Homo sapiens: one gene and its partners. The protein of the gene in region 1 purifies or fractionates together with the protein of each later gene. This does not show direct contact. Each region holds a gene or a part of one and is shown in the gene's direction. Other genes may lie near its edges.

Evidence for each region.
Region 2: the proteins of DYRK1A (region 1) and GLCCI1 purify together in Homo sapiens (affinity purification with mass spectrometry; 8 studies listed by BioGRID and IntAct, with this or other methods). This does not show direct contact.
Region 3: the proteins of DYRK1A (region 1) and FAM117A purify together in Homo sapiens (affinity purification with mass spectrometry; 4 studies listed by BioGRID and IntAct, with this or other methods). This does not show direct contact.

The regions. Positions count from the first base shown.
Region 1 is NC_000021.9:37,369,679-37,376,779, forward strand, and holds part of DYRK1A (dual specificity tyrosine-phosphorylation-regulated kinase 1A), read left to right. Parts: intron 1-7,101. UniProt on the Homo sapiens protein: Dual-specificity kinase which possesses both serine/threonine and tyrosine kinase activities. Exhibits a substrate preference for proline at position P+1 and arginine at position P-3.
Region 2 is NC_000007.14:7,964,416-7,971,795, forward strand, and holds the start of GLCCI1 (glucocorticoid-induced transcript 1 protein), read left to right. Parts: upstream 1-4,380; 5' UTR 4,381-4,935; coding exon 4,936-5,392; intron 5,393-7,380.
Region 3 is NC_000017.11:49,719,132-49,726,131, reverse strand, and holds part of FAM117A (protein FAM117A), read left to right. Parts: intron 1-3,537; coding exon 3,538-3,633; intron 3,634-5,695; coding exon 5,696-5,806; intron 5,807-6,237; coding exon 6,238-6,372; intron 6,373-7,000.

The DNA.
Region 1 (7,101 bases):
AGGCACACTCCTTTTTACCTGGTGGGTGTTGAAAAAATATTTGAAGGAATAGACCTGAATGAATGGTAATTATTGGTAGGGGTGGGAAATGGACTAAATGACCTAGTGAGATCTTTGTTTTGAGATCTAAGTATAAGATCATCTCTTAAACCTTTTAACAATATTTTGGTGGAACCTATTAGAAACTTAACACATTATTGTGTGCAAGATATCTAAAAATAAGTCCAGTTTTTTAGAGGCAGTAACATTTAAGATAATTTAAAACATTCCATATTAGTGTAATGTCTTGTTAGGGAATGTGGACAGTAAAAACGACCATTTGTTAAATTTTTTTTCCCCTCCAAAATATTGTCTGATGTTTGCTCCTTCGTGTTACTTATGGAGAGTTACTGTTTATGACTTAAAGATATGGGGGTGGAGAGGCCTAGGTAACTGCAACAATGTATTTAGGTAATTTACATTAGGTTTTTAGAGGGCTATGACTATCTGCAAAAGGAAAATTCAAGATACCTTGTTATAAACATGGTATACAGTGACCTTTGGCATGCATTTTGTTTTGTAACTACACGAAGTGTTAATTTGGATTGAATCTTTGTTTTCACTTGAAAACCTTTTTTTTTTTTTTAAGAAATAGCTTGGAAATTTAGGCTGCCCTGAGGTGTTTTCGTGTGTCTGTTTATGGTTGACAAGTATCTAGTTATGAGAAGAAAATGTGGATAGAATTAACTGTATTATAGGCGAGAAGGGAATTGCCTTATAATCTTGTGCCACTGAACACAAGATTAGTAGAAGAGTGGGCTTCACTTGTGACTTTCTTGGTATTTGTGATTAGGCGTGTGCCAGTTTGTCTTTGCTTTGGCATTAGCTTTCCTCATATTTGAGAAGGCTTTCACGTTTCCTGTACACACACAGGAAGCAGTTTCACCCCTCCCCAAGAAAAAACTTATCTAAACCCAGCAAAACCCAAAAACTTCCAGAAAGTCTTTATCAAGAATTTAGTTCCTCATCCCCAAAGTTGTGTTAGTCTTATTTTGTAGTAATCATAAGCAGTTATTTAAACTGAACCAAGAATCTTTACTTTCTGTTGAGTGTTTTGGTGATTTTACCTCCATATATGTTCGTCTATTTTCGATTTAGAAGTAAAGATATTACGTGAAACTATTAGTAATGTTTCCTGAAACTTGATACTAACAGTTTGCTCTGTGAAAGTGAATTGTGTGACCAGTGTAATAGCACCTTATGTATATATGGTGGTTTTGCCTTTTAAAAGACTTTTTACCAGATGTTATCTTGACTGTTGGGCAATTTTCTGATGGCTAGAGAGGTGGTAATTTATGACCCAAAGCTTGCTCAACTTTGGATTAAAAAGTTTGGAGAGTTAAAATTTGTGTTTAATTACTTGGAAAAATCAGCAAATTATATTAAATTACCTAAAATTTCTCCTCAGTTGCTCCCAAATGAAGAAAGCTTTTTGAAATCTTGCCTTATGTCAGTGCTACAATTTTAAGCTAGAGTTGTAAAGTTTACCATAGAGTGTTTGAAAGTGAAATGTAGACTTCATGTGACTAAAATAATCATTGAAGGTTCGTTCATATTGGGTAATTGAAGAAAGATCTTATTTGTTAATACTGGCTACCAGCAGCCTTAGTTTGATTATTATTTTTTTATATGGAAACAAAATGATTTGGAAATATTGCACTGCGTAAGCCAGCTAGGTATTTAAAAAGTTAAGCTTTTGCTTTGAAATCCTACTTCCAGAGTACTAAAACGAGTGAGAATTGTTTATTGGTGATAATACCCTACGTTGAACACGTGAAATGGTGTGGTTTCTTTTGGGCATATATGTTTTGCTAATGTAGAACCATTTTGGTGTCTTGGCAATTGGTTCTTATACCAGAGCTATGTATCTTCTCTTCTAGAAAGCGATATTTAAAAGTTTGTATTACTGTTAAAACTAGGTTTTGACAAGTTACATAATTTTTTTTTGGTTTGGGGCAGATGCTCATATCTGATACATAGTGAGTAATAGCTTAAAATGTGTCTTTGTTCTTGTCAGTGAATATTCTTGTTTTATCTCCCCATGTTAGAAAAGTTTGTTTTAATTGATTTTTGGGGGGGGCCCAGTGAACTGGCTTAACATAGAATGAAACTGGCTTTCAGCATCAACTCTATTTTAAATAACATCCCTGTTCATTAAATAACCCCCTAATTTTTCTTGAGTGTATAACATTTCCAATGACAAGATTTGATTTTTTAATTTTTAAAAAAGCTTTCACAAAAAGCTTTTCCGTATTATCATTATCTATATTATTTGATAATATAGAGCCATTTCGACATCTTGGCAGTTGGTTCTTCTACCAGAGCTATGCATTTTCTCTTCTGGGTTTTTCACAAAAGCTTTTGCATGTCCGTAAAATGTTATGGACATGTATGGTTAAGGCTTGCATCTTGGCACCCATGTATTTGGGTAAAAAGATGCTTGAGGCCTGGCGTGGTGGCTCACACCTGTAATCTCAGCACTTTGGGAGGCCAGGGTGGGCGGATCACTTGAGGCCAGGAGTTCGAAACCAGCCTGGGCAACATGGTGAAACCCTGTCTCAAAAAACAAAACAAAACAAAAAAAAAACAGGTGTGTTAGTGCCACCTGTAGTCCAGGCTACTCAGGAGACTGAGGTGGGAGGATCAGTTGAGCCTGGGAGGTGGGGGGTTGCAGTGAGCTGAGATTGTGTCACTGCACTCCAGCCTGGGTGACAGAGTGGAGCACTGTCTCAAAAAAAAAAAAAAAGGTTTGAACTGTGACATCTGTCTGTCTGCTTGCTATCCAGTTATAGACAGCAGTTGAGGCAGCATGATACTGTGGAAAGATCCCCTGCCCATGAAACCATGAACAGAGGCTCCAGAATCTGGCTGATCTGAGTCTCAACAGGTTCTGTTGGCTGTGTGACTTTAGGTACAGTGATTTCACCAAACATCAGTTCCCTCATCTGTAAAATGAGGTTGATAGTAATTAGCATAGGAATCTTGTGAAAATTGAGATAATGCATGTACATTTCTTCATGGATTTCTTTCTCCTCCTTTTTTCTCTCCTCATCTTCATTCATGCTCATTCTGTGATCCTAGCATAAATATTTTCTTCAGAGAGGCCTTCCCCAAACCAGGTAGTCTTCCTTGGCCATGCATTCTTTTTTTTGGCCAAGCAGGACCATTTGTTTTTCTTTGCAACCCTTACTGCAAATATGATTATTCATATATGTTCTTATATATAATTGTTCATTAAATTTCATTTAATATAATTGTAAATTTAATTTCTCCATTAAATTTTAAAGTCCATTTGGACAGGAAGAAGTTTTTCTTGATCATGGCTGTAACTCCAGTGCCTGGCACATAGGGGGTTTAGATTCATAGAATGATAGAATGCGGAACCTGTATGTTGAATCCTTCCTGACTACCACTCCTTAGCCATGTCATCTTGGGCAAAACAGCTTCTCCTCGCTTCAGTATCCTGTATGCCAGATATAGATAGCACCGGCTGCCCTGCCCAGGATTTTGAGAATGTGAAATGAGACACTATAATGAAGTGCTGAAGTGTAAAATGCCATATAAATATAAAATGGCACAGTAGCAATAATCTCAGTAATGGGGTTATTCAGTAGGAAGCTCTATTGTGACTTAAGAGTATAGAATTTTAGCTTTGCTGAGTTGGTTGGTAGCTAATATTTAAGAGTTACGATAAATTTAAGCTTTCTTATATGTACCAGTTAGAATGTAGATGGGCCTGTTTCTGACTAAATACAGTGGCTTAAACGAGAAATTTATTTTTCCTTCATAAAACAACAGTATAACTTATCTAAGGCTGATATGGTGGCACCACGATGTGAGGGAGCTTGGTTCCTTCTGTCTTGTTGCTTTCCTGTGCTTACCATTTTCTTCATAGTACAAGGCAGTTTCTCACTACATCCACAGTCCAGGAATAGGATTTTGGGAAGGCACATTCCATCCCTTTAAAGACAAACCTGGAAGTTGCATACATGATTTTTCTTCATACCCTATTGGTCATAACTTAGTCATGTGGCCATGTTTAGATACAAAGGAGTCTGGGATATGTGGTCTTTGATAGGTGACTATTTGGCTGAAAATTTGGGTCTACTGAAGAAGGGGAGAATGGGGGATGATTAAACATTGCCTGTTACACTTCAAAATGTTTTGGGAGAAGCTTCCAGAAATAGACTTTGAAAATACAATGGATTGCATTAGTTAATAAGTTTATTTTCTGTATTTAATCATTAATTTTTTAAACTATGGTATGTGAATTCAAATAGACCGTTATGCAAAATATAAGTAAGTGGTCAGATTAGAAAAATGTAGCTATACTTTTAGTAGTGAAGGGATTTTGGGTCTAATAACAGTTATTTTACTGACGCTTTATTTTCTGATAGAAACATGGTTCTTGATTGCTGTGCTTGTATCACGTAAGCAATATTTGAAATCTGAGCTTTTGCATTTAGTGTTAATAGTCCACTGGACCAACTGAATGTCTTCTTGCTCATACCCTCAGCAAACAATGCTACAATAACACTCGCATGTTGTCAGGATGTCATAAAGATTTGAGTCACCGAACACTGCAAGAAGGATGATAGCAGAGATATTTAAACGTACATTTACTATCTAGTATGTTCCTCTTGAATTCCTGTGGATTTGAAAAAAGAGAAATATAAATATCTAAGATTCCCTTAAACTATGAAATATTATTAGCTCTAGTACAGACTTGGGAAAACTAATGGTTCCCAAACAGTCTTCTGGAGAACTTGTCAAAGTTAAGAGATTTCCAAGCTCAGATGCCTCTCTTTCTGTAGGTTTAGAGTGATGCTCTGGAATCTGCTTTCTTTTTTTTTGAGACAGAGTCTCGCTCTGTCGCCCAGGCTGGAGTACAGTGGTGCGATCTCGGTTTACTGCAAGCTCCGCCTCCTGGGTTCACGCCATTCTTGTGCCTCAGCCTCCCAAGTAGCTGGGACCACAGGCGCCTGTCACCACGCCTGGCTAATTTTTTTGTATTTTTAGTAGAGACGGGGTTTCACTGTGTTAGCCAGGATGGTCTCAATCTCCTGACCTCGTGATCCGCCTGCCTTGGCCTCCCAAAGTGCTGGGATTACAGGCTTGAGCCACTGGGCCTAGCTGGAATCTGTTTTCTTAAGGACTCCAGGTAATCCTGATGCAGTAGGAACATTTTGAGAAACACCAATAAAGTTCATTTCTCACATATTAGAGAAGGAAGTGGGTGCAGAGAAGCTGAGTGACTAATCAGTGCCTCAGAATAAGCAGGCCTGGGACTAGCATTGTTTTTCCTGACTCTTCGTTCTTTGTTCTTTCTACAGAAGAGGGAATAAAGGACAAGGTGTACAGAGTGCAGTGGGATTTTATAGGAATAGTTATCATCTTAAAGTAAGTATGTGGCTTTTAATGTGGGAGCTTATGTCTAGTGAATGGTTGGCCCAGTTGTCCTTTTTGCCCTATAGAAAAATAATGTGAATATTTAAATACTCAAGTGAATGTTTAAAGGTTAAGTGAATATTTAAAGGTGAAAAGCTGAAGGTTTTAAGTAAGGTTTTGTTAGTATCAGCACTATTGTGGGCAATGTATATACAGCATTAGAATAGATGTATAGGCAGCTACTTACTTGACATGATTAGAAGGAACAAAGGTAGTTCTTGTCCTCAAATTACTACTTTCCTTTTAGGTTGCTTGTAATTTTCACTGTTGGAATTCATTTCATTAGATTAAGATAAAATCTGGAATTCTCTAGTTTAAAATTTTAAAATTAGAATATTCCTAGAGGAATATTACTTTTTTTTTTTTTTTTTTTTTTTGAGATGGAGTTTCACTTTTGTCACCCAGGCTGGAGTGCAGTGGCACAATTTCGGCTCACTGCAACCTCCGCCTTCCGGGTTCCAGCAATTCTCCTGCCTCAGCCTCCCGAGTAGCTGGAATTACAGGTGCCTGTCACATACCCGACTAATTTTTTGTTATTTTTAGTAGAGACGGGATTTCACTATGTTGGTCAGACTGGTCTCCAACTCCTGACCTTGGCCTCCCGAAGTGTTGAGATTATAGGTGTGAGCCACCACACCCAGCCCTGGAGGAATATTCTTTACCTGTTATGAGGTTAACACTTTATTTGTATCAGTTATTATTATTAGATCTAGCCTGAAAACCCATAGCCCTAAATTGGAACAGGCATGCCTGTTTTTGCACCCAAAAGTTGCCTTTTGGCCCGCCAAGCCCCCCTCTTCCTATACCAATATAAACCTGAAACCGCAGGCCCCACAAGCAGACGAGGAGATGAAGAACAGAATGACAGAATGGCTTGGCAGAGAGAAGAGAGAGTCTGAGTGCTGGGAGGAGTTCCACTGGGAGTGGTCAAAGGGGAGAACAGCTGCTTAGTGCAGGTGTCAGTCCAGAAATCAGAATGATGCCTGCACTAAGAATGTTTTGGAAAGGAGGGAAGAACACAGTCCATGTGCCCTTTACTGAGAAAAATGAAGGGTATGTTTAGGCCAGGCGCAGTGGCTCATGCCTGTAATCGCAGCACTTTGGGAGGCCAAGGCGAGTGGATCACGAGGTCAGGAGTTCGAGACCAGCCTGGCTAAAATGGTGAAACCCCCATCTCTACTACAGATACAGAAATTAGCCAGGTGCAGTAGTGAGTGTCTGTAGTCCCAGGTACTTGGGAGGCAGAGGCAGGATAATTGTTGGAACCCTGGAAGCGGACGTTGCAGTGGGCTGAGATCGTGCCACTGCGACAGAGTGAGACTTCGTCTCAATTTTTTTTTTAAGGGTATGTTTAAGAAATATCACCTTGTGGTATGGTCATGGGAAGGTTCATGTGAGTATTCTCTGGTGGCCAGAGGTTGGTAGTGTTAGCTTGCTTCGATGGCTTCCTATCACTGAGAGTGTTGGTAATGGCACTGTGGGTAATTCTGCCTAGGACCCTGCGCTTGATTAACTACTGGACTAGAGGGAGTGTCCCTGTTTTCTTACTGTCTTATTTGTTAGGGCCCGTATTTGAGCAGTGTTATCAAACATATAAGGTACGGTTCTGATCAT
Region 2 (7,380 bases), on another chromosome or scaffold:
ATATAATAGTCTCGTCTACTTAATTATCATTTATTTTCAGTTCCTTTACACAGGTCTCTTGAGAATAGCTCTTCTTAATAGTGAGATAGAACTAAATACCAATCAGCAGATGTCACTCCTTAAGTGATCCTCTTCAGTTTTCTCTGTTTATTTCAGTTGTCCTTTTTTTTTCAATGCCTTTTCTCCATTGCCAATTCTATTTTCCTTCTTTTGGAGATAGGTTCCCACTCTGTCACCCAGGCTGTAGTGCAGTGGCACAATCATAGCTCACTGTAACCTCAAACTACTGGGCTCAAGCGGTCCTCTGCCTCAGCCTTGCCAGTAGTTGGGAATATGCCTGGCCCCCATTTTCCATTTTCATCCTCTGATGAGCCTCCAGGAGCCAGTAGGTCTAACAACCATAATGCAAGGTATTCTATCTTTTTGAATGGCAGCTTCAATACAAATATCTGTGTGGTTTACAGTAGCCACATCAGATATTTTTCTACTCTGCGACTAGGCTTTTGTAGCAGAGATACACCTGTTAGATTTTTTTTCCTGAGGAAAAGCACAAGTTTTAGTTCATAAGATAAACACTGGCTAAAATTTGCCACTCTTAACAACATTAAACAAATATTTATTGATCATCTACCATATACTAAGCACTGTTGTAGAGATTCAGCAGTTATAAAACTGATAAAAAGTCTTCACTTCATGGCTGTTCTATTCTAGACAGACAAAACAAAAAATAATTATAATATATTATGGTTTGGTTGCTGATAAGTACTCTGCAAAAAGAGTAGGATAAAGAGCAGGAAAAGCCGAGGGGTGCTTACAATTTTTAAAAAAGTGTTCAGGAAAGCTCTCATCATAAAGGTGGTGACATTTGAGTAAAGACCTGATGGAAATGAGTGAGCAAGCCATGTGGATATCTGGGCAAGAACCTTTCAGGCAGAGGGAACACCTAGTGCAAAGGTGCACGTAGGCTGTCACAAGCAGTAAGGAGTTTAATTTAAGCATCTGCCAGGGACAAAAATTCAGTCAAGGCTTTTTTGTTGTTGTTGCTATTAGGAATCAATCTACAAGAGAGTTTAATCAGCTTAAGATGAACATCAGTGCAGATCTGTTTAGTGTTCTCTCCCAGCCATGACCTCATTGCAAATACTGACAGCCTGGACTGCCTCTCAGATTTGGATGGGCCTTGGATGCTCAGCCAGGCAAACCCAGATGGAGCTAGAAGAGGAAGGTTTTGGTAGCTCTGTGGGCTCTGTGGCTTCTTCATCTTATGATCTCTCCACATAGGGCTGCATATAAATCGCATGTAACCAATGATTCCAAGTTTTAATTTAACCTAAAATGTAGTCTATTACCATATTTGCACTAAGAAGAAAGTAGAACAGAATTCTACCTCAGATTAGCTAATGGCAGATCCTCGTCCCACAGATAGCCATGGCATGGGGCTACTGATACAGAAGTATTTCTCATGCCACCAAATTGTGCCTTCAATTTTGTCTTCTTTACACAGGACAACATAGTAAGAGGTCATTGTTAACATTAAGTCTTATATAAGATTTTCAGAGATTGTTACACTTACATTCAACCAGTATGGAAAATCGGCACTAGGCCTAACTACCCCATAGCTAGCATAGTAGCATAACAACGCTCTTCTAGCCTAGCAATCCACATCTCATTCTAGGGGGTTTCCAATTTACTAAGAACATTTTCTTAAAGCTTCTATATATCCTTGGAGCTTACTTTGTCCTCAATAAGAATAAAATATTATCAAGAACTCAACAAATGGACATTTGAAAGCAGGCACTGAGTTTAATTTATTTTAGGCCACCTTTGATTTGTTTGAAGCCTGTATTCCTTAAATATGAAGATCAGTACTTACGTCGTGAGAATAAAGGTTTAAGAGACAACCAAGGTTTCTATAGCAAAGAGAAACGACTGAGCTTCTAGATTGGTCATAATGACTTACTAGTAACTGAAAATAGTATTTTAAGATCATACTAATTCTCTGTTTCTCTGTGTGAGTTATTTAGATTTGCTTTAGATGTCTAAGTCAGCTGTGGTAGATTTGAACAAACACAGAAAGTCCTTAAAATATGACTAGGTATGTTGCTTTAGATCCAAATTAGGTATTGATCATTGTGATTGTGACCTAGAATAAATTTAGAATTATTGTAACCTAATGTGTTGAAGTTGTTCCATAAATATATTTAGGAGTAGCTAGAGATGACATTTCTATAATGCAACTATGCTGTAATCAAAGCAACAACTCAGAAATTTACCAGCATGTAAAAGAAAAATCTTAACTTTTTTTCTTCTTCTTCTTCTTTTTTTTTTTTTTTTTTTTTTTTTTGAGACAGGGTGTCATTCTGTCACCCAAGCTGGAGTGCAGTGGTGTGATCAAGGCTCACTGCAGCCTTGATCTCCCGGCCTTTTGGGCTCAGGTGATCCTCCCACCTCAGCCTCCCTAACCGCGTCCAGCTAGTATTTTTACATTTTTAGTAGAGATGGGGTTTTGCCATGTTGCCCAGACTGGTTTCAAAATCCTGAGCTCAAGTGATCCGTCTGCCTTGGCCTCCCAAGGAGCTGGGATTACAGGCGTGAGCCACCGCACCTAGCCAGCTTTACATATTTTTAATCTGTCAGATTTTTTGTTCTTGCTATTCTGAGAAAAGTCACTGAAAAGAAATCATTTATCATTCTTTTTACACACAAAATAATGCAGTTTTTAAATTAATGAGATAGGCCATTTATATAAAATTTGAAAGAGTAAAGTTTTTATTCATAATTAAAATATATGTTATTCTGGAAAACAAAAAAAAAGTAGTGGTCTGTCTTCATTTGTAAAATTTCCTTTGAACTGATGGGAACTTATCTCACAGATGAGATTTGTGGGCCATTGTGAATACTCTACAGATTATGTACCCCACAGCTTTGAGCTGCCAGGTACTATAGCAGAGTGCTTCCTCAGACTCTTGAGCCAGTCTGTCTGGGTGAAATTTTTAGCTCCCCATATACTAACTATGTGATCTCAGGCAAGACAGCTTATTTATGCCACAACTGAGACCACAGTAAGGATAATAATAGTATCTACCTTGTGGATTATATGAGGACTGAATGAATTAACACACATAATGTTCTTAGAATAGCGGCTGGCACATGGTGAATAAATGTTAGCTCTTATTATAATATGTGGTAAACTGAGGAACTATCACTAGTTTTACTTGGATGAAGTACTGCATGAAATTTTTGTATTTTTATTGAGTTTCATCAATTTTTTTACTGAACCTAGTATGCTTTCTCGTCTGAACACACAAGGAAGAAAAGAAGGATGGCTCCTGTACGTGAAAGTGACCCCTGCATATAGTGCCTGAAATCAGAGGAAGCTTGTCAGTGTGGGCAGACACCACGAGCAGACCAATTTGACATTGTGCTTCTCTTTTAACCTCTTGAAAATTAATGAAAGTTATCTGATGAAGATCCTTACATTAATTGCTCCCGATTAAGGTTTAAAACCTTGGTTTACTGTGGGGTAAATTTATGTTTTTGATAGTCATCCAAAATCTTTGTACGCTTTCAGTTTCATTACAGAATAAAAAACAAATTTACCACAATGGATTATTACATTACATCTGGTATTTATTCCTCCCAAGAAGCTATCTGCTTCGGAAAAGCCAGGGGCGCCCTTCATTAATATATCTAACTGATGGTGTAATGACATAAAATTCCTTGTTGACCCCTGCTATTCAGTGTTATTGTCTTGGAACATAGAACTTGATAATCTCTTTTCACTGCATAACTACAAATGTTAGGCTGTAAGAGTATTTTACTTTGTTCAGTGCAGGTTCCAGACATTTCTCCTGATCACCAGAAGTTCTTTTGATTAATAAGGCTACTGGTCACGAAAACTCAGCTTACTAAAAGAGATCCAGTCTTCTGGTTCTAACTAAAACATCCCACCGGATGCAGGTGTACTTGCAAATTAAAGTTTGCCTCATGTGTCCTGTGTCTCAAGTCATACAGACGGCCCAGGAGGGTGGAGCCCCTGCAACCTGCCTAGCGGGGCGTTTGCGTGTCTGGGGGTGTCGGGACACGCGCAGGACACACACAGTCCCACTTTCCTAGTCTCGCACTTACCTCAAGGCTGTCAACTTTTACGCTCCTCCCTGCGCGCACAGCCCCCACCTCACGCTGCCACCCCTCACGCCCCGCCTTCAAAGTAGGAGGCACCATTGTCATTGGACACTGCTTCTCTCACTCCTATTCCAGAACCAATCACTCGAGTTCTAGTGGGGAGCGCCTAAGCCAATGGAAATGCTCGCTGCGGCAGCTGCCGGGTCCTGGGCGCTGGGAGGCGGTGCCGGGGGCGGGGTGCGGCTGGGGCGAATTAGTTGCCATTCGGAGTGAGGAGTGGGTAGAAGCGGCGGCGGCGGCGGCGGCGTTTGCGGTGGCGCGGACTCCGAGGAGCGCCAGCACCTCGAGGCCCTTTCTCTCTACCCTGGTCCCCAGAAGCAGGGGTCCCGGCCCTCCTTGCAGCTGCCGGGTTCTCCCGTGCGTGCAGCCCTGCGAGGGCTGAGGAGAAGGCTGCGAGCGGCCCTCGGGGCTGCGTGATCCGGGCCGTTGCCCTGTCAGCACGATGCCTGGAGCGGTGGCGGCGGCGGCTCCGGGCTCCTTGCGGCCCCGGCCGTGACCGCCACACCGAGCCCAGCCGGGCGGTTGCGGCCGTTGGACGTTTGTTTTCGCAGCCTTCCCCTCCCCCCTCGCCGAGGCGGCGGGGGTGTGCGTTGGGGAGGGGGAGCCCCGAGACTCCTCCCCCACAGCGATACCCCCGCCCCTCCCCCTTACACACTCGCACGCACTATCGCGCCGGCTCCCACACGCTCGCGCGCCTCCCGCCCCGCGCCTCCGTGTCGGCCGGCGGCGTCCAGGGCCCGCAGAGCCACCATGTCCACTGCCTCCTCCTCCTCCTCCTCCAGTTCCTCTCAGACCCCTCATCCCCCGTCGCAGAGGATGAGGCGCAGCGCCGCGGGGTCCCCGCCCGCCGTCGCCGCCGCCGGGAGCGGGAACGGTGCGGGCGGCGGCGGCGGCGTGGGCTGCGCCCCGGCTGCGGGAGCCGGCCGGCTGCTGCAGCCCATCCGCGCCACGGTGCCCTACCAGCTCTTGCGGGGCAGCCAGCACAGTCCCACGCGTCCGCCCGTCGCCGCTGCCGCCGCCTCGCTGGGCAGCCTCCCGGGGCCCGGCGCGGCCCGCGGCCCCAGCCCGTCCAGCCCGACGCCGCCGGCGGCCGCAGCCCCGGCCGAGCAGGCGCCGCGGGCCAAGGGCCGCCCGAGACGGTCCCCAGAGAGCCACCGGAGGAGCAGCTCACCTGAGAGACGGAGCCCCGGCTCGCCCGTGTGCAGAGGTAGCGAGCCCAACCCTCCCGTCCTCCCGGGCTGCGTCTCCCCGACGGTGCCCTCCGTGGAAACTTCAGCCTCTTCGGGCTTCTCTTTGCTAGTGCATTATCGAAGGTGTGAAAGTGGCTTTGGGAATCTCACCCCCCTGCGGTCGCTGTGGGGCTTGGAGGAGCGAACTGAAAAGCGACTTTTATTTGACCCTCATGCCGCCCCTCAGAGTCTCTCTTCCATCACTCGCCTGCTTCGAGAGGTTTTTCAGTTTAAGAGCTGGCTAGCTCATTCGTGTGTTTGCCGTTTGTAGCCGGGGAAGGAGAAGCTGGGCGAAACACTTAACACGCACACAAACTCTTCAGCAGCGGATAAGGTGGCGGTTGTAATCTCTACCGTCTCTTTGTGCTTTTCTGCAAAGTTCCTAACGTGCCTGTAACTACCGGGATAGTATTTTATTTTTTAGAGGGTTGGTGGCATTAGTTTCGATGTAAGGATATCGGCTGGATGTAATGATATCTGCTAGAGGGGACAGTTTTGAATGTACAATTGAAGTGTATACGGTTTTTTCCCTCAGTCCTCCCTCTCTCCCTCTCCCCCAGCCCCCCGCCACCCCGCCTCTCTCTCTCCCTCTCTTTCTCCCCCTCCCCTTTATATATTCATGCATCAGAGCACTCCTGCACTGGAAACAGTTTGTGCTCTACCGGAGATTTTCATGGTAAATTTCTGAAAACTTATTTGTGGAACGTGTTCGTTTTTTTCCTTCCATTTTTAAGTACACTTAACAGTTCAGTTGAGCTGTTCAAGGATCTCAAGTTTCTTTTTTTGTTAGGTGTCAAAGGTAATGGTGAGCTGGTGGATGCTGTGGGTTTCCCTTAGTGTTTTCTGTTTTGCTTTGGTTTTGTTTATGTCTAGGGACACAGTGCATGATTTAGTTGAGCCCTGGGGGAGAAAAGGAAGATTAGCCAAAACAGGGACTTAAAGCTCATAAGGGAGAGTGGAATAGCTAATATTGTTAGATACCGAACTAGAGCTACAGATGCTGCTGCTGCATTGTGGAGGGAACAGATCATACTGGGTGGAAAAATCTCTGCTTGGAAGGGAAACACTGTCAAAGTCTGTACATTGTTTATGTGGTATGTGGAATTTTTTTTTTTAATGGAGCTTTCTTGATGAAGGTGTTAGAGTTGGAGAAAGTGGTTGTCTGCATTATGATACATTGCAGTCTTGGTGTTTTTGTTTTAATATTTCAGACCCGTAATTAGCATGTTGCTAACGCACTTGTTTTCTGACCACTTGATGGTGAACCAGTGTAGGATGTAGTGCAGTGGGATGAGTACATGAGCAGCAAGAAATACATCCTGTAATCTGTATGCATTGGGAGGAATATGCTCCTGCACTCCTCCCCCAGGTCAAGCCAGCTGCTGCAGAAACTGACATCCTCCAGCAAATCCTGAATGAATGAATGAAAACAACGTGATCGCCCTAATAATGACCACAACTGAACACACATCTTTGGCTGTATTTTATAGAAAAGGCCACCATTTTCTAACAGATTAATGCCATATGCAACTCCTTTGCACATTTTCTAGAACTGTATGAAATGAGAAGTAACAGAACGAACAGAAAACAGTTACATAAATTTTTTAGTGATTTCGCTTCAACAGTGCACAAATTGAGTTTTGGGATTTTCTTGTAGGGACTAAGAGGCATAAAATAAGCATTGCAGATTGTGTACAGAGGGTCTGGTGGGTGTGAGTAAGAGAAGTTTCGGCAATTGCTGCAACAACATAATGGCCATCTAGTACCTCCTCCCCTTTTGTATATAAACACTAACATCTTACAACGGATAATAGTACAACTTGTTTTTCTGCATCCTTCAAAAGGCTTAATGGCCTAGGAATTACATGCTCCATCATCAAGCAGTTTTAATAAAATTTGTGATCTGGCTTAAACTATTCTCTTTGTTGTAGTGTGGCACATACGAGTTTAATGCGATTTTAATGCA
Region 3 (7,000 bases), on another chromosome or scaffold:
AAACTTAGTGGCTTAATACCACAGAAATGTATTATTTCACAGTTCTGGAGACCAGAAGTCCAAGTTCTGTTTCACTGGGCTGAGATCAAGGTGTTGGTAGGGCCATTCTCTCCCAGGAGGCTCCTGGGGAGAGTCTGTTCCTGCACTTCTAGCTTCTGGTGGCTGCTGGCACTCCTTGGCTTGCAGCCACATCACTCGAGTCTCTGCCTCTGTGGTCATATCGCTTTATCCTCTTCAGTGTGCATACATCTAATCTCCCTCTGCCTCTTTCTTATTTAAGGACGTTTGTAATGGTATTTAGGGTCCACCCAGATAATCTTGGATAATCTCAAGATCCTTAATACATCTGCAAAAACGTTACTATACAAGGTAACATTTATAGGTTCCTCATCTTTGAGGAGCTGTTTTTTAACCTGTCACTGCATCTCCTGACACACTCTGCTCCAGCCACACTGGCCTCTTTATCATTCTCAAACATGCCAGGCTCATTGCCGCCACAGGGCCTTTGCACTGGCTGTTCCCTCTGTCTGGATTACTCTTACCTCAGATACGCACATGACTCACTCCCTCACTTCCTTCGTGTTTTTATTCAGATGTTACTTTTTCATTGGGGGCCTCCCTGACATTTCCAATTGTATCCCCCACCCAGCATTCCTATCCCTTTTCTTTGCTGTATTTTTCTCCTTGGCACTTATCACTGTTTAAACTGTCTCCCCAATAAGAACATAAACTCAGACGGGACAAGTATTTGTGTTGTTTTGTACATGGTTGTATGGCCAGTGCCTGAAACAGTACCGGGCACACAGTGTACATTCAGCCACTATTTGTTGATTGCACGAATGCTGTACACTCAGAGCCCATCTGCAAGGAGGAGACACAGAGCAGAAGAGCAGTCAGCCTGAGGCAGACAAGTTAGGAAAGGCTCCCTGACAAGAAGAATGGGAATAGTTGGCCGGGCAGGCCGTCTTAGATCGGGAGACCAGGCTTGGAGGTTGGGGGTAAGGTAAGAAAAAGGAGAGGGAGATGGGTTTGCTTGGGAGGACAGAGAGCCAAGGATGGAGAGCCCGTGGGATGAAGGGTCAGATGGTGAATTCTATGGCCAGGGGTTGGGTGTTGACACAAAGAAATGGCCTTAGTAGTATAGTTTACACAGAGAAGGCAGTGGTTGGTGGAAGACGTTGCTGAGCGGAGAGAGGTGGGGTCACTTGGATTGAGAGAGGAGATGACCCTAGCTGCTATGATTTTCACATCCCTTTCTTTTTCTTTTCTTTTTTTTCTTTTTTCTTTCTTTCTTTTTTTTTTTTTTTTTCTTGAGACTGTCTTGCTCTGTCGCCCAGGCTTGGAGTGCAGTGGTGCAATCTCAGCTCACTGCAACCTCTACCTCTTGAGTTCAAGCAATTCTCGTGCCTCAGCTACCTGAATAGCTGGGATTACAGGCGCCCAGTTAATTTTTCTATTTTTAGTAGAGACGGGGTTTCACCATGTTTGCCAGGCTGGTCTTGAACTCTTGACCTCAAGTGATCCACCCGCCTCAGTCTCCCAAAGTGTTGGGATTACAGGCATGAGCCACCACCCCCAGCCTCACATCCTTTTTAAGTCCTGTGCTAGCCTGCATTTCTCTTTCCATCCTCTCGCATATCCCAGAAGAAAGAGGTACTTGAAGAGTTTGCAAGAGATATTAGTAGTACCCGTGGCGGCCTGAATGTGGCTGTTTTTTCCTCTCTGTTACCACCCACCTGTGAGTACAGTATCTTCCCTGAGGAAGGGAAATGGGCAGAACGGTCCCTTTAGCTTTTGTCATCCCTCTATAGCCTCTGCCACCTTCCAGGGACAACAGGTTTGTGTGGGGGGTGCGGGGCCCAGCTTCGATTAGCAGAGGTAGTCATCTTTAGAGTTGGTCCTGGAGCCTTGAGGAGAGGATCCTTTGTGTGTCTGCTGGGTCGAGGTGGCTGGGAGAGATGGGCTTCCTCCTCACTTTTCAGTGCATGCACCAGCCTTTTCTGAGGCTTTGTCTGGTAGAACCCTGGTTTAGAGAGACATGGGCATTTGGAAGTAGCTTTCCATATACTGACAGAGCCAGTATATGGCTTTAGGGTTTGTGCTGAAGATTTGGGCCTGAAGGATGTGCTGTCTGCCCTTTTCCTAAAGAAGGGAATTGTGGGGAAATGGATCTCTGGATGCTTTATTTAGCATTTGTAGACTCCTCTGTTACCTACTTACTCGTGATGCTCATCAGAACAAGAAAGTTAGGGTAGTTGTCTCACCCTGGCTATGTTGCGTGGCCCAGTAAAGGTGCTGATCCATGAGCAGCTGGGAGAAGGAAGAGCCAGGGAGCCCCAATCCCCAGTGGCCCCTCTCCACTGCAGCTGTCACATACGGCCGTCTGCTCTCACAAGCTTGCTCAGACTCCCCCGCCGAGCTCCTCTTAGCAGCTGTTGGGTGGCGAGTAGTTGGGTTTTTTTCCCCGTCCTCCCCCTTTTCTGTTTGCAACAACCTCTCGGGGGAGGTCAGCAGATCTCTTGGAGGAGACAGTTCCCAGGCCCTCATGTTTTTGGCAGCCTGTGCTTGTGCACAGAAGTTAGAGAGAAACTGGTTCCACTGGAGCGTTCCCCCTTGGGCCCCTCCCTTGGAATGGAAGTAGGGATACTGGTGGTGGGGAGGGTTCTGGGCCTCTTTGGCTTCATGCTTAGAGCCAACAGCTTCCTCCCTTGGGTCGGGGCTCAGGAAGTAGTCCTGCAGCTCTCCCTGCCTCCATCTTGGACACTCTGTCTTCGGTGCAGCAAGGGAGAGAAGATGCACACTGAGGGCCCTGTTTTTATGAGGGCTGGGCAGGCCCGGGAGGAAAAGGAGTGATAAGGCCAAGAGGGATCAGGAATCAGGGCTGGATTCAGAACTGTGGCTCTCTCCTTTCTGAAAATGTCTCCTTCCTGCTTATTTGCAGCGGGGGCAGGGGTTGGGGGAGTAACACTTATTCCATGTGCAGGGAAAAATGAAGCACTGCACCATACAGGAGTCCCCTGCTTTGGTCAGGGGACCTATGTTGACATTTTTTCCTGTTTTACCAGTTAATAATCCCTTAATGCACTCCTATATATTAACTTGTTTTTATTAGGCTCCCAGGAGCCTGGGCCTGTGCTACACATGTAGAGGGCGAGAGAATAAAGAGTGCCAGTGATTCCCGGAGCCTGAGCCTATATTCTCTTGGAGCTGGTTGGGATAGGAGTGGCAATACTTGTCCTCACCACTGAGGATCAGCTGGAATAACTGGGATATCATATATGTATAGCACTCAGAAAAGAGTAAAGAGGAGGTTGGCCCTGTTGGGTCATCAGGGAATGTTTGCTGGAGGACATGAACTGGGAAGGAGGGAGTGCAGGTGGAGAAGCCTGAAGAAGAACACCGACTGGGAGTGTTCAGAGGTTGATGAGCAGAGAGAAGGGCTCAAAGGGCCATCACCTCTACCCAGAAAACAGTGTGCCTGTTCCCCAGTGCCTGCCAAAGAAGCTGCTGTGTCTCACTGTGTTTCTCTCCCTGCAGACGCCCCTGTCCTGGCAAGAGCTAGAAGGTGAGCGTGCCAGTTCCTGTGCACACAAGCGCTCAGCATCCTGGGGCAGCACAGACCACCGAAAAGAGGTAGCTACCCACTTTGACTCCCTGCCTAGGGTAGCGGCTTCTTCTCGATCCCCTAGTACCATGCAATGCATCTGCTCCATGGTGGCGTCACACTGCTCACCTCTCCTATCTTGACCTGGCCTTTTCCTGATGAGATGGCTCCTTCCTAGCTGACTCCCACTCTCCAAGTGGCCAGGTCTTAGGAGCCCAGACCCTCCTGCTAGGCAGGGGCTTGGCCAGAGGCTGCTAGTGCCTTTCAGCAGCAAGCACAGGGCTGGAGCCACCATTGTTCTTTGGGATTGGATCCAGATAAGCAGCTCAGAGACTGGAGGAAGACAGGGAGGGAGTTCCTGGGAATTAGGAGCTCCCAGCCTCATTTACTTCTTAACTACTCATCTAGTTTTTTGTTTGTTTGTTTGTTTTTGGAAACAGAGTCTCTACTGGCCAGGCTGGAGTACAGTGGCACGATCTCGGCTCACTGCAACTTCCGCCTCCTGGGTTCAAGCGATTCTCCTGCCTCAGCCTCCTAAGTAGCTTAGATTACAGGCACCCACCACCACAGCCACCTAATTTTTGAATTTTTTTTTTTTTTTAGTAGAGATGGGTTTCACCGTGTTGGCCAGGGTGGTCCTGAACTCCTGACCTCAGGTGATCTGCAAGCCTCAGCATCCCAAAGTGCTGGGATTACAGGCGTGAGCCACCACGCCCAGCCCTAGCCTTATTTTCAAGAGAAGAGAAAAATAACGAAATGCTCCCAAACACTTTTTCCTGGCCCTCCCTCTCCCTCAGGAGTGCTCAAGTCATTGAGGTTAAGGGGAGAAAGCCGTAGGCTGGAATATTCCAGGGCTCCCCATCAGCTCCTCCTGACATGCTGTGTGGCAGCTTCTGAGAGGGTCAACTCGATAGGACTCACCCTGCACGCCTTTACAAGAGGAAGTTGCTTCTGCCCTCTATTGCTGAGAACAATGAGAAAATATGAAGTGAATACGTTGAGAGCTTAAGACAAGGGGGAAATAAAAAATATTTAAACTTTTCAATGGTCAGAGTAAGCAAGTTATTCACACTAAGAATGGGGAGATGTGGTATGAGTGACCCACAATAGCAAATTGGAAAGCTCTTTCTTCTTGGCTCTAGTCATAAATCTTATGGCTGTGGGTAGCAGATCTACTCTCTGAATTCCATTTAATTTAGGCTTATATTTAAATAGCTCTTCATCCCCTGAGCATTTTCCAGTTGAGGGCAAGAAGGTCCAGAATTGCACATGTGATGGGATAATATTCAAAACTGTTGATGATAATCTGTAGTAGTCTCAGGATATGAAAGTCAAGATGAAATCCAATATCCCCTTCTTGAGTGTCTATCCCTGTTCCTAGTGTAGTCTACTTTAAACAAGGGAGAATATCCCCATCCTTCCTGGTCTCAGGGCCTCTAAGATCGTTGTGAATGTACTCTGAATGTCCTTAGCATTCAGAAACATCATCTTCCATTGCTATTTATAGAGGGGTAGGGCCAGACGCAATGCCTCATGCCTGTAATCCCAGGACTTTGGGAGGCTGAGGCGGGTGGATCACGAGGTAAGGAGTTCAAGACCAGCCTGGCCAACATGGTGAAACCCCATCTCTATTAAAAATACAAAAATTAGCTGGGGGTGATGGTGGGTGCCTGTAATCCCAGCTACTCAGGAGGCTGAGGCAGAGAACTGCTTGAACCTGGTGGAGGTTGCAGTGAGCCGAGATCGCACCATTGCACTCCAGCCTGGGTGAGAGAGCGAGACTCAGTCTCAAAAAAAAAAGAGGGGTAGTCCATGCCTTTGGAATCTGTAAAAGACAAAATGGTTTCCATGTTGTATATTTTTAATTATTTGGAATCCAATCCATCTAGTTAAGTGAGGTATCCAACTCGTCTGAGGAACAGATCATCACAGTTTTAACACCATTGAGCTATTTTGAGATGGAAGATTAACTTCCATCCTCCTTGTATATATCTTCATGGGCCTCTGCCAGGAGCCACTCTTTGGAAGAGGGACCCAGTGCACTTTGGCTTTCCTTAATCTGCCTCTGTCGTCTTCTCTCTGGGCTGCTAGATTTCCAAGTTGAAGCAACAACTGCAGAGGACGAAGCTGAGCCGCAGTGGGAAAGAGAAGGAGCGAGGTTCACCACTCCTAGGGGACCACGCAGTGCGGGGAGCACTGAGGGTATGTTTTCTCCCCCAGCCCTCTCCCCTCTGTTCTCCTCCATGCAGGCCCCCCTATATGGGCAGAGGTTTCCTGGGTCTTGGAACTGCCGAGCCCCCTACCACACTGCATGCTTTGTGAAGTTTTAGTCCAAACTTGGTCTTGCTGTGTGATATTGGAAGGGCTTCTTGCCGTTCTGAATCTCCCTCTCTTCTACCCCCATCCCCATATAATTGAGGCAATGACTCTACAGCACACAGTAGACTCTGCAAAGCTCAAACTTTTGGAGAAAACTGCCCTGAGTGGACCTATTGCAATCTGTAACTGTCCCCAAATCACCCTTCATTCACTCAGTTCTGCTGTGTGGACATGACCATTACCCCTGGTCAGAATGAAAGACTGTCTAGGCCTGGTGGGGCTGTGTGTGATTTTGTCATTTGCCTCTTCCTCAGGCGTCCCCTCCCAGCTTCCCCTCAGGGTCCCCTGTCTTGCGACTCAGCCCCTGCCTGCACAGGAGCCTGGAAGGGCTCAACCAAGAGCTGGAGGAGGTATTTGTGAAGGAGCAGGGAGAAGAGGAGCTGCTGAGGGTGAGTGGCGGCTGCACCCTGAGTGCACCCACAGTCCGTGCCTCACTTGGCCTGGGCGAGGGGAACTGGGAGTCCTGCTCTCTGGGGCCTCACAGGCTATGGCTACGCAAACAGCAGCATACAAACACCAGCCTGCAAAAGGAATGCAAATGGAGTTTATTAGTCTCAAATGGCCTTAACCCATGTCACTAGGGCAGGCTTTGTGGTGGTGAGTACAAAGACAGGGGGCAAGGATTGGCAGAGAGGAGGCCCCCCCGCTGGGAGGAACAGACAGGGGTCATCTTCAGCCAAACTGCCAGTTCTCACTGTTCCCCGTGTGCTCGGCACCGGCATGGGCGCCTCAGTGCCTGCTGCTCCCTGCCCCTTCTCCATCTCTACCTGGTAACACGCATGCCTCCTTCATGCCAAGCTGCTCCTATGCAGCCTTCTCCCCGACTCCACTCCCAGGCAGAATATGTGCTACCTTTGCTGAAGTCTCAGGCACTTTTTTTTTTTTTTGAGATGGAGTTTCACTCTTGTTGCCCAGGCTGGGGTGCAGTGGCGCGATCTCAGCTCACCGCAACCTCCGCCTCCCGGGTTCAAGCAGTTCTCTGCCTCAGCCTCCCCAGTAGCTGGGATTACAGGCGCT